2 separate regions of the Homo sapiens genome follow, and region 1 is linked to region 2. Evidence: fine-mapped expression QTL. Tissue or cell type: lung. Region 2 holds a variant in brackets; the other region holds the start of a gene. All regions are shown on one strand. Distances are between the middles of the regions.

Region 1 (2,500 bases), 200 kb after region 2:
AATTTTTAGGGGTAAAATTTAGTGTATACAGTACCTTATTATGCAGCAGAAGAGGCTAGTAGGTCGAATCCTGCCCAAGAGGTTTTGCAATTTTCTCTTTAAAAAACACCTACTTCTCCCGCATCCCCAACACCCACAGCGCTCCTTAAAGGAAAATGGATACGGATGCCCCATCCCTTTGGTTTCTCAATGCATTTTACTTAGAAAGAGGTCACCTAGTAAGACCCATGTGGTGAATGTGCACCCGGGCGGGGCATGAGGGTCCTTGGAAAGCACCGCAGAGAGGGCGACACCGCAAACCGCTGTCCCACGCGACCCCCGGGGCGAGCCGGGGCAGCGCTGCACTCGGTGCGCACCGGCAGCGTCTGGCACCCACGCCACCTGCTGCTCCCGCGGGTCTGGCAGGGGCAAGGGGCGGAGTGGGCAGGATCTTCAGATCAAAGGAGACCGATGCTTGCCCACGGCATCCAGCGTAGGAGCCGGAATCGAGGTGACCCCAGATTTTCCCAGAGTGTCTGTCTCCTTTCCCTTCTCAGAACTCCGAGAGCCAACGCTAAGGGGCACCAGAGGCTCAGACTGCGGCGGCGACTCGCAGGCACCCAGCTCGCCCGCGGCTGCGGAGGTCCTCGGAGGAGCCCACCCGGGAGGGGGTCTGGACGCAGGCAGCGGGGGCAGAGGGAGGGTCGAAGCCGCTCCAGAGGGTCCAGGTCCGAGGAGGAGCCCTCGGAGACGCGGACGGTGCGCGCGGAGGGCAGGGCTAGGCAGTGACCCCGGGTGGCACAGGGCTTACTGTTTCTTCCTAAGACTCTATGAGGCCACTTCTAATCGTTTACTTTAGAATAGGAAAGAAAACATAGACAAATGGGTGGCTGTCACCCAGGCAGCTACACGGTCGATGCAGGTGCACAGGCGTGCGCGCCATTCTCCCGTGTCACACAGCAGGACGGAATAACTGCACGCACTGGGAGCGATGGATCTCGCGGTCCGGGATCCGAGACGCATTCAGAGACCAAATGTCACCTCATCCCTCCTCTAGCCAATTCGAGCTTCCTCCGCGGACCCCCACCTTCCATCCGAAGTGGCTCGGTCCTTAGTTGAGAGGACTCTGCCCAGACCCTCGCACCAGTAGAGACCTCTGCCCGGGCGCCTGCAACTCGGACGCTTCCCGGAGCCAGAGCGTGCGGGCGGCGCGGCCGCGAGGAGCCTCACCGGCCATGCCGTCCGCAGTCTGACTTTTATTTTTCTCTTCAGTGATTAAAACAAAATATCGTGGACAGGGGGACAGAAAGGAAAGAGCAGGCGCCTGAGCCCGGGGAGCCGGGCGGGGGCCCCCGGGCCCCGCGGCCCCGCCGCCGCCCGCCCCCGCGCGCCTTCTCCCTCCTCCCGGGCCGAGCCGGCGCCACTGCGCCAGGATGGAGCGAGCTCGGCGCGGGAGGAGATGACGCAAAAGCCAGCGCTCCCCCCAAAAAAGTGTTTCTCCAGGACGAAGATGGCGGCAACTTAGCCCGCGGACTGAAGATGACTGTGGCTCTCGGGAGGCCCAGCCCAGGCGATTCGGCCCGGAGCTCCGCGGGAGGCGGCGTCAGCAGTCGGAGCCCCGGCGGCGGCGCCCGCGGGCGGCCCTGCGGCAGCGGCGGCGGCGGCGGCGGCGGCGGCAGCACTTAGAGCGCGGGGTGGGGGGTGGGGGGGAGGGAGCGCCCCGCCGGAGGCAGCCCAGGCTCCGGACTCTGGGAGAGCCAGCGCGGAGCAGGAGCGGGAGGCGGAGGAGAAGAAGAAGGAGAAGGAAAGGAAGGAGGAGGAAGAGGAGGAGAAGAAGAGGAGGAGGAGGAGGAGGAGGGGAGGCGCTCCGGGCGCCGTCAGTGGGCAGCGGAGGCGCGGCATGCCCCTGGCAGGGGAGAGCGGGCTGGGCTCCGCGGGGCCATGGGGACCCGCGCGCTGACAATGCCTGGGTGACCGGAGCCGCGCCAGCCACCCTGTCACCTCCACCATCGCCCCCTGCACCCAGCCTCGCCGCCGGCCACCAGCACCAGCCTCCTCCGTCTCTCTCTCTCTCTCTCTCTCCATTATTGTTTCCCACTCTACAGAGGATGGGGTCGGCTGATGATTAGGAAGCAAGTCAGACCTTCCTTCAAAGCCTGGTAATATTTATGTAGGCAAAAGAGACAGAGAGAGATAAAAGAGAGGGAGAGGGAGAGAGAGAGAGAGGAGAGAGGGAGAGGGGAAGAGAGAGAAAGAGAGAGAGGAGAGAGAAGAAACGGGAGGAGGGGATAAGGAAATTAAACCCTTTAAGTCAATGCATATTGTGGTGACACCGGCACAGGCGCCCTCACGGTGGAGTCGGCCAGGGCTGTGCGTTCCCAAAATATGACCAGGGGTGCTTGGATGTGTCGGCAGTATGACGACGGCTTAAAAATCTGGTTGGCAGCACCCCGAGAGAACGAGAAACCGTTCATCGATTCCGAGAGGGCTCAGAAATGGCGACTGTCTCTGGCATCTCTCT
Region 2 (2,763 bases):
TTGGGAGACTTCGCTGGCCTCTCCTGATGTTTGGCTTCCAAGCAGCCACTGTGAACTACTGGCATCCTGGCTGGAACCATTCACCACGGAGCCCTCCCTGCTTCTGCACATCCCATTTCCTCTGTCCCTCTCCCTGATTCATCTTGGTTCCCTCCCCTTCATTCTTTCTAATTCGGATTAAGCTTCACTTCTTCCTGATGACTTCCCCTCCTCTCCTGGCCTCTCTTCTTTGTCCTGCCATTGCACTTTCCACGTTGTCCTGTAAATCTTGATTTACTTTTCTCCCTTTTCCACTAGGTACAATTATCTTTGAAAGCAGAGGCTGTGTTTTGTTTGACTCTGTGTCACCAGCACTTATTTTAGTTTTCAGCAGCAATATTTGTAGAATTAATGAATTATTTATGAGTGAATAAAGGCAAGTAAGAAGTAAATTTGACTTAGAAATCTCTTGCTTCTGTGTCGGGGAGGATAATAATAAGATTAAGACAGGATACGTGGGTGGAGAAATGCTGAACTCAGTTCAGACTATGTTGAACATGAGTCACTGGAGGTGGGCAAGGTGGCGGTGGCGGGGGGGAGCATTTAAACAGATAATAAATAACATGAATAACATTTAACAAATATTTGTTTAGAGCCTGCTAATTGCCAGGCAGAACATTGTGCAGTAAAATGGCAGTCACCTTGCCCAGAAGATTATGCCCTTAAGGCCTCCCTGAGGCAAGCAGTTGGTCAATAGGTAAAAGACAGGGGTGCTGAAAGTCGGATGGCTTTAGAATGATCTCCAGAGAAAGCCAGGCCCCAGCGCTTGCCTGGGAACACAGGGAAGCCAGTTTACAGGGGAGACTGAATCCTGGCTTAGATTCCCCCTGACCTAAACTGCTTCCCTTGTTCCATGTCTCCTAAACAAGGACTCCTCTTCAAGGATCAACTTCTAAAGACTAGGCCTATGACAGTAGCCTTCAGTGTAGGACTTAATCGGGTGGTAACTGAATTCTCACTACATGGGTGATACTTTAACTAGAGTCTGCGCCCAGCCGAACTCTTTTCTTCTAATATCTGATTGTTATCTATCCCATGGAGGGAAGTGCTTCTGTCTTTTCTTTCCCTGTGGGTACTCACATCTCCTTATATTTTGGGCCAGTTGATTGCCTTGTGACCTTTGTGAGGTACAGTGAGTTTCTCTTCAAAGAGTCAGCTTGCTCAGCTTCCTTGTTCTTTGATCTCAGTTTTCAAAGTCTAACTTCCT[C/T]GTTCTTTGTGCCTCCTTGCCCCTAGTTAGGGTAAACAACCTTCCTGCCAGTCCTACTCTAAAACTCACATCTACTCCCTTGGTTACCCACTCTGTAACTGACCTTCCCCCTAGAACTATCCTTCCTGCCTTTACTGCACCCTAAAACTGTAACGGACAGCCTCTCCCATCCCACCTAGTTAACTCTATTCAATTTTAAACAGTAGCCAATTGGGTCAGCTTAGATTGTGCAGTCCAACTACAGCCAATGGAGAAAGGGACACAGCTACAGGAGCTGCTGTGTTTGGAATAAAACCTCTTCCCCACCCCACTTGATGTGCTCTTGCAACCACACCAGGCACAAGTGGCACTCTTCTGCAGAAGTAAATCGCCTTGTTGAGAAAGCTTTTTGCCAGAGTGCTGATTTTTCTTTGCAGCACCGAGCATTTGTTTCTAACACCTTAGGTCTCTGTTAGGTTAAAATTGAATTTCTTTTTTTAATTTTTCACAGTGGACATGAACTTCCTTCAGCTCTCCTCTATAATCCAAAGCTCAACGGAACTTGATTTGGGGTTTTTAAAATTTGCATATTTTCATTCATCAAAGGTATACACACATAACTATTTTAAGAAGCCACTGTAAAAAGTTTCCCTATCCTTTAGGAGTTTATATGCTAAACACACACACACACACACACACACACCATAAAATACATGTATAATAAAACTCACAAACAAGTTCGTTCAGAATAAGCTGAGCATTTACACAAATTTGGTTTAATTTTAAAAGACAAGGAGGGTTTTGAGGTGTGGACAAAAAGAGTAAAACTCTGTAAAATATTTGAGAAGATTTATTCTGAGCCAAATATGAGTGACCATGGCCCATGACACAGCCCTGAGGAGGTCCCAAGAAACATATGTCCAAGGTGTTTGGGGTACAGCTTGGTTTTATATATTTTAGGGAGGCATGAGACATCAGTCAAATACATTTAAGAAATACATTGGTTTGGTTCAGAAAGGCGGGACAACTCAAAGTGGGTGGGGAGGTGAGGGGGTTGGGGGGAGGGGCTTCCAGTCTATAGGTAAATTTAAACGTTTTCTGGTTGACAATTGGTTGAGTTTGTCTAAAGACCTGGGATCCATAGAAAGGAAATGTTCAGGTTAAGAGAAAAGACTGTGGAGGCCAAGGTTCTTTTGAAGTCTTATAGTGGCTGCCTTAGAGACAATAGATGACAAATGTTTCCTATTCAGATCTTTAAAAGGTGCTAGACTTTTAGTTAATCTCTTCAGAATTGGGAGGACCTGGAACAAAAAGATCTGTAGGACATCAGTCAGGGTGGTGGGAAAAGTTATAAGAAAAAATTTTAGGGAAAGACGCAAATCTCCTTGGAAGGCTGGGAGGTTTTGCAAAAGCTTTCAGCTAAATTCTGCCATCAGCTAAATTCTCTTAAGGGTAAAGGGTAGGTAACAAGGGAATGTAAAGGAACTTAGCTAGATAAATTGGTTTACTTATGTCCCTGGAAACCAGCCTTTGATCAT

The links. PIP is the estimated chance that this variant, and not a neighbour inherited with it, causes the effect.
Region 1: it holds the start of NALF1, and the variant in region 2 is fine-mapped to the expression of NALF1 in lung (TOPMed, PIP above 0.99).

What each region holds. Positions count from the first base shown.
Region 1 is chr13:107,866,461-107,868,960 of GRCh38, reverse strand. NALF1 (NALCN channel auxiliary factor 1) reads left to right here and starts at 1,465. Exons shown (of 3, transcript NM_001080396.3): 1 at 1,465-2,500. The coding sequence starts at 2,365. It overlaps LOC124903206 (heparan sulfate glucosamine 3-O-sulfotransferase 4-like), which reads right to left and starts at 2,288. Exons shown (of 1, transcript XM_047430833.1): 1 at 1-2,288. The coding sequence starts at 2,064. The coding sequence ends at 1,501. RefSeq lists an enhancer at 429-997.
Region 2 is chr13:108,068,488-108,071,250 of GRCh38, reverse strand. No RefSeq gene overlaps it. Among named protein-coding and RNA genes, the nearest start is that of LIG4, 150 kb to the left of the region's middle. The variant C/T (reference allele first, on the strand shown) is at 1,247.